2 linked regions of the Homo sapiens genome follow. The protein of the gene in region 1 purifies or fractionates together with the protein of each later gene. This does not show direct contact. Each region holds a gene or a part of one and is shown in the gene's direction. Other genes may lie near its edges.

Region 1 (3,821 bases):
TAGGATCCCTCCTGAGCTGGGATTACAGGTGTGCGCTACCATGCCTGGCTAATTTTTGTATTTTTAGTAGAGACAGGCTTTCACCATGTTGGTCAGGCTGGTCTAGAACTCCTGACCTCATGGTCCACCCACTTTGGCTTTCCAAAGTGCTGGGATTACAGGCATGAGCCACTGCACCCAGCCTGTTGCCATTTCTTTTGGTGGTCATATTAAAAAAGTAATTGCCAAGACCAACGTCGAGATTTTTCCTTATGTTTTTTTTCTAGGAGTTTTGTGCTTTTTGTTTTTCTTTTCTTTTCTTTCTTTCTTTTTTTTTGAGGCAGATTCTCGCTCTGTTGCCCAGGCTGGAGTGCAGCGGCACGATCTTGGCTCACTGCAACCTCCACCTCCAAGGTTCAAGCGATTTGCCTGCCTCAGCTGCCTGAGTAGCTGGGATTACAGGCGCACACCACCACATCTGGCTAATTTTTATATTTTCAGTAGAGATGGGGTTTCATCATGTTGGCCAGGTTGGTCTCGAACTCCTGACCTCAGGTAATCCACCCACCTTGGCCTCCCAAAGTGCTGGGATTACATGTGTGAGCCACCGCATCCGGCCTGAGTTATGCTTTCAATGTATTTCTTACATTTCAGTTTTTAATCACTTTCCAGTTAATTTTTGTGTATGGTATAAGACAAGGGTACAATTTCATTCTTTTGCATGTGGATATCCAGGTTTTCCAGTGCCATTTATTGAAGACTATCCCTACCTCAGAGTTTTGTTTGTTTGTTTGTTTGTTTGTTGTTTTGAGACAGGATCTCACTCTGTTGGCCAGGCTGGAGTGCAGTGGCACCATCTCCACTCACTGCAGCCTCCACCTCCTGGGTTCAAGTGATTCTCCCACCTCAGCCTCCTGAGTAGCTGGGACTACAGGCACACATGCCTGGCTATTTTTTGTATTTTTTTTTTTTTTTTTTTTTGAGACGGAGTCTCGCTCTGTCGCCCAGGCCAGACTGCGGACTGCAGTGGCGCAATCTCGGCTCACTGCAAGCTCCGCCTCCCGGGTTCACGCCATTCTCTTGCCTCAGCCTCCAGAGTAGCTGGGACTACGGGCACCTGCCACCACGCCCAGCTAATTTTTTGTATTTTTAGTAGAAACGGGGTTTCACCATAGTCAGGATGGTCTCGATCTCCTGACCTCGTGATCCGCCCACTTTGGCCTCCTAAAGTGCTGAGATTATAGGCGTGAGCCACCACTCCCAGCGTGTTAAGAGTTATCTCAAAAAAAAAAAAAAATTATCGGCCAGGCGTGGTGGCTCACGCCTGTAATCCCAACACTTTGGGAGGCCAAGGCGGGCAGATCACGAGGTCAGGAGATCGAGACCATCCTGGCTAACACAGTGAAACCCCGTCTCTACTAAAAAAATACAAAAAAATTAGTTGGGTGTGGTGGCAGGCGCCTGTAGTCCCAGCTATTTGGGAGGCTGAGGCAGAAGAATGGCGTGAACCTGGGAGGCGGAGCTTGCAGTGAGCCGAGATCATGCCACTGCTCTCCAGCCTGGACGACAGAGCGAGACTCTGTCTCAAAAAAAAAAAAAAGGAACACTCATTTACTGTCTTTATTACTGATTTTTCTTTTTGCTTATGTTGGATTACAAGTCTGCATTTTTATTTTTTTTCTTAACATAATTCTATTCCTTTAAACTTCCAGGAATTCTTCATCTTTGCCTATGACCTTTCTGTGTGTGTCTATATGTTGTGGATTTATTTCTAACATTTACATTCTGTCCTTTCAGTGGGATTTTGGTGGGGAGAATATGTCATTGTTTGGACTCATTTTGCCATCATGAACTATAAGTTGCAGTTTGTTTAGTGTTACATAATACTTCAGAATTGTTGAATGACAGTGAATTTAATTAAACAGTATAGGGTTTGTAATTTAATATACAGGGATTCTGCCCCTAAATATTTGAGTTATCTGAAGCAGGTTTCTTAATTATTCAAAGTATTGATATCCTTATCTGCAAAATGAGGAATAAGTAAATAAATAAAGGGAATAATCATATCTGTCTCATAAGTTCGTCACAAGCATTATTTGAGATAATACATGTAAAGCTCTTAGTATAGAACTTGGTATACAGTGAATATACTCAGTAAATGTAATTTGTTAAGTAGTGACTATTCAAAATAGTTATTTCAAAAACAAATCAAGCCGAGTGCGGTGGCTCATGCCCATGATCCCAGCACTTTGGGAGGCCGAAGCGGGTGGATCACCCAAGGTCAGGAGTTTGAGACCAGCCTGACCAACATGGCGAAACCCCATCTCTACTAAAAATACAAAAATTAGCTGGGGATGGTGGCAGGCGCCTGTAATACCAGCTACTCGAGAGGCTGAGTCAGGAGAATCACTTGAACCCAGGAGGCAGAGGTTGCACTCCAGCCTGGGTGACAGAGTAAGACTCAATCTAAAAAACAACAAAACAGAAAAACAAGTAGCTTTTTCAGAAAGCCTTTTAGAAGAGATATGAGTAAACAGATGCTAAGTGGCTGGCTAAATGATACCACAACTCTTGAATCAAAACTGATTCAGATTAAAAAAACCTCTTAACACATTCTTTCCTATCAATGTAGTTAGGACTAAGAGTCATGTAGCAGTAGTAAACCTGTCCTGTAATATATTTCTCTTAGGATTGGTTTGATAGTTGTATCATAATTGCATTATTTATAACATTAATTTATTAATGTATTCATTAATTAACCTAAGTCCTTTAGTAGTTTTCAGAATATTTTTCTTAAATTGTTTCCTGTGCTAATTCGAATGTTAACATGCTAATTCAGAGTTTGTTGCCATTTGTATCCTGACAGTGTATTAATGTTTATACTTGCAAGAGTGAAATATTTTATTTCTTATTACAGCGGAATGGCCAAAGACTATGACGGGTCTTCCTAGCACATCAGGGACAACTGCCAGTGTGGTCATCATTCGGGGCATGAAGATGTATGTAGCTCACGTAGGTGACTCAGGGGTGGTTCTTGGAATTCAGGATGACCCGAAGGATGACTTTGTCAGAGCTGTGGAGGTGACACAGGACCATAAGCCAGAACTTCCCAAGGAAAGAGAACGAATCGAAGGACTTGGTGGGAGGTAACATTCTGTCGTTTTCTCTTTCCTCTTTTGGTTCTATTTAGTCCTTTTATGCTTTACTAATGAAATTGACCTACTACTGTCCCTTTTACTGAAGTTACTTTCTTAGTATTACAGGTTTTTTAGTTTGTCTGATGTAATACTCATGTATGTATGTTCATATTTTTCTCATTACTATGAATTGACTTTTATTTCTGATAATGACTCTAATAGGAAATAATATTTCAGTGAGCCCCAAGGAAACAATTCAAGGTTTTACTGAAAACCTTTCAGATGACTTTCAGAATCTAGACGGAGCAGCTCTTGGAGTTCCAGAGTAGAACACTTTGAATCTGGCTGGGGGAAAAAGATTAAGTTAGAATTAACCTTCAGCTTTTTTCATTGATTTCAGATTTACTGCAAACCTTTCCAGTTATTGTTTTCTTTGTTTGAACTTAGCGTTTCAATGTGTAAGTAATTTGTAAACTAGGAACTGAAATTGATTTCAATTTTATATTTTTATGATTCAAACTTAAATGAAAGATTATTCTAAAAATCAAGAGAGTGAATAACATGAAAAAATTTAAAAATTATCTCAATACTAATTTTTAAAAATTGAGGATATGAGGCAAGTTGAGTAGAATCCAATGTTTTCTAAATAATCCTTCTAACTAAAGCCTTCCCATGATATCGTTACTTGCCTCTTTTTTGCTTTTA
Region 2 (3,821 bases), on another chromosome or scaffold:
CTTTCACTGGTGAATGTTCTAGAGGATTGCAGGAAGGCTGGTTGTTGAAGAGCCACACACTTTCTACCTGTACGTGTGTATTTACACATGGCCACGTGCATTTTACTACCCTCATGTATATAGTCAAATAAATACATGTGCATGTGTACACACATTCTTTCATATCACTTCTTGTCTGATTTGGCACCTTCCAAAACTCATTTTGAGGTGCCAGAATAAGTTTTATTTTGGCTTTTAGATGACAGCCTCCAGAGGAATGGCATCCACAATTACTCTTCGTCTCTGGGGGCAGCAAAATGTCCACAGCACTTGGGAACAGTCGGGTCAGTTGGAGTGGCATGCCCCCAGGAAGACAGAAACCTTCTTGTACAGTTGTCTGTTTTTATTATCATAGACAGGTGGTTGATAGCTGTTTTATTTCTCCCAAATATGGCTTTCGTTTTGGAGGAAAAACTTGGAATAAGTAGTGACTTACTTCATAGATGCTCTGCCCTTCTCCCCGACCCCACCAGTGGAGGGTGACATTGCTCCTTCAGCTCCCCACTTCTCAGCTCTGGGACATCGGTGAGTTCCCCAGGAAGGATGCGGACGAGGACAACCATGTACCTGCCCTAAGTGGGGAGACCAGGCGTGTGTACAGATAAACTTAATAGAGAGGCAAAAATGAAGCATGTCAGAAACACAGAAGTGCGGAGATTGTTCAGACCTCTCTTGGGTGATTACAGTGGACTCCTTATTGATCTTTTAGCTAATAAAATGAATGGAAAAATATTTCATAAGTGTACAATATGCAGTAGGAAAATAGAGTACTGTTTACTTAAAAGTCTGAAAAACACTGCTGTACTGCTTCCGTGCAATCACAACTGGGGTTTAGACACCCACTATCTTATCTTGTCTATTCCAAAAGGAGTCTAACATTTGTTTCTGACTCCACAGCCAGCAGTCTTTCTAGCACAACTTGTGATCCTCCCTGGATTAGACTCTTTCGGCTGTGGGAGAAGATTCCCACCTCTGTGTGTGCCTTCGAAGGCCTTTAGGATCTGGGCCCGCAGCCCCGTCTGTCACTGGCTGCCCCTGGTTGCCACTGATCCCTACCACCAGCCACACTGTACCATATGCTGCTTTGGCTTTTGGAATTTGAACAAAATCTAGCTTAACTCAGACATGCCCTCTAGGACTATATTGCTGTCATCATTTAAGGAATCAGAACTGTAGTGAAGAATACTTTGTAAATCAGCTTTACATACAGTTTTCAAAATAATCATGTATACAAACATATATAAGGTGTATTTGTCATTCACCATTCATTGAAGTGTTTATTACATGTTCTGTTTTGTCCCTCCCAGGGAAGAATCAACCAAAGTCCTGTCAGCCTTCCCCAGGAAGGCTTTCTATAGAGGACATGTGTGTTAGTTATATGTTGCTATGGAACAAGTTATCTCAAAATTTAGCAGCTTAAAACAACAAACACATTATTGTACACAGTATCTGAGGATCAGGAATCCAGGTACAGCTTAGCTGGGGTTCTGAGGTTGCAGTCAAGCTGTTGGCTGGGGCTGTGGTCATCTGAGGCTTGCCTGGGAGGGCCCTGCCTCTAAGCTTGCTCATGTGGTTGCTGGCAGGTTCATTTCCTCTTGGCTGTTGGCATGAGGCCTCAGTGCCTCACCACGTGGACCTCACCGTCAGCTGCCTGAGTATCCTCACAGCATAGCACTTCTCTTCCCCCAGAGTGAGTGATTCGAGAGAGGGGATCCAAGACAGAGATCAAGCTTTATATTTATATACAACCAGAAAATAAGTGGCACCCAAATACCTCAGGCTTAAAAAAAGTGAGACAGCAAGCATGGGAGCCTTTGTTGATAATAATGGCCTCTTTTTTCCATTTTGAGCCATATGAGATTCCCTACGTGCTGGGGGGGAGATAACTGCTCTAGGTAGATGTTTGTGTATTTCATGATCTGGTCCATAAGCGTTGTTGGAAAAAAGTGAAAATTAAAAGGAAACAAGTCTTGGCTAAAGGGGAAAAAAAAGTAAGTACAATTGCATCCTTTAGATCTCAGATTCTCTTTCTCATGACTTTATTCCAATTTATGTCCGTTACTTCCTTGAACATCCCACTGGTGACAGGCATAGCTGCCAGCTTCCAAGAGTCCTAATGATTCCCAGCTCCTGGGACTCACCCTTGTGCAGTCCCCTCCCACACAGTACCAGCGGTGGTCTGTGGGATGCTGTCACTTTTTGAAATCCAGTAAAAAGGTTTCTGTCTTTTTTACCTCATTGGTGAGTGATTGGGGAGTGGGACCCATGGGCCCTTTGATTAATGTGACTCTGATGTCCCAGTGAAAGTCTTTGTCATTCTCAGGCCGACTGCAGCAGTGGCCCAGGGCAAAGAGTGTGCGTCATCGATGAGATTGGGAAGATGGAGCTCTTCAGTCAGCTTTTCATTCAAGCTGTTCGTCAGACGCTGTCTACCCCAGGGACTATAATCCTTGGCACAATCCCAGTTCCTAAAGGAAAGCCACTGGCTCTTGTAGAAGAAATCAGAAACAGAAAGGATGTGAAGGTGTTTAATGTGAGTACAGCCAGTCCTCCATAATCAGTGGAAATGGAGCAGATGATCTAAAATAGCAGATGGCTCTAAAATATCTCTTTGGTTTTGAGTTAACATTTTTTCCCTTCCATGCTGAAATGTAGGTGAGTCTAATTTTCTAGAAATGTATAGAACTTAAATTATACCTCTACTTGATGAAAAAACAAACTCGCTTATGGGGGGGCCTCCTGACGGTCCCAGTTGTTCTGGCTGCTTTTTTCTTCCATCTCCTCACCAGACACTAGGACCTCTCTGGCATCAGAATTGCCTGAGCTAAGGTGCTTGTTCTAAGCTTATCTCTTCTCAGATTGAAAGGCGCCAGGTTGGGATACAGAGGCAAATATTTTTTGTTTTGTTTTAAAGATTTCCCTTTTAAAGCTGACCCACTTGTGCTTGTGGGGAGAAGAGGCTGTGGATGTGTTGGGAGACACAGCTTCCAGGTGCTGAAGAGCAGCACCGTCCAGTTGAACTTCCCAGTAGTGAGGGAAATGTGCTCTCTGCATTGCTCAGAACAGTAGCGACTAGCCACATCTCGCTATTTATGTTTAATAAATTTAATCATATTTAAATTGAATTATTTATTTAATCACATAAATAATCAAATTTAAATTGAATTAAACATTTGGATTCTCAGTCACACTGGCCACATCTGAGGTGCTCTGTGGTCTCGTGTGGCTGCTACATTCACTAGTGCATCTGTAGGATGTGCCACTCAGTGTGAGGCTTGCAGAATGGCAGCATGGGCATCACCTGGGAGTGGGCCTTGCCCTGGTCCAAGGAGTCAAACTCTGGGGGATGGCCCCATGATCTGTTCTGGCAAGTTCTCATGTGGTTTTTAGGTCCCCCGCACTTTGAGAAGCACTGCTGTAGACCACATGTGAGAGATGAGGGGCTAGGGCTTGTTGACCAGTGGCAGCGTCTGAGCCAGTCGGAAGGGACTCATGGCATTGCTGGCACTTTGTCTAAATTCTTGCCTTTCTTTCCCTGTTGTCCCTCTGTTTTCCTCTCAGTCAGATATTGCTTCTCCCCAACCCCTACCCTTAGTTTCTTTGAGTCAGTGGTAGCTGTGCTCTTGGCTGAGCTCTGCTCACACACCTCACTCCCCACCCCCAGTTTAAAAGCTCCCTGGCCCTGCAAGTGCCAAGTGAACAAGTCAGGCAGGCAGGGCCACTCCTATCAGGGGGAGTGGAGAGTGAGTACCCGTGAGCACCTTCCTCATGATCATTTTAAT

The links.
Region 2: the proteins of PPM1D (region 1) and NTPCR purify together in Homo sapiens (affinity purification with mass spectrometry; one large-scale study listed by BioGRID and IntAct). This does not show direct contact.

What each region holds. Positions count from the first base shown.
Region 1 is NC_000017.11:60,620,625-60,624,445, forward strand, and holds part of PPM1D (protein phosphatase 1D), read left to right. Parts: intron 1-2,896; coding exon 2,897-3,125; intron 3,126-3,821. UniProt on the Homo sapiens protein: Involved in the negative regulation of p53 expression. Required for the relief of p53-dependent checkpoint mediated cell cycle arrest.
Region 2 is NC_000001.11:232,967,547-232,971,367, forward strand, and holds part of NTPCR (cancer-related nucleoside-triphosphatase), read left to right. Parts: intron 1-2,362; coding exon 2,363-2,572; intron 2,573-3,821. UniProt on the Homo sapiens protein: Has nucleotide phosphatase activity towards ATP, GTP, CTP, TTP and UTP. Hydrolyzes nucleoside diphosphates with lower efficiency.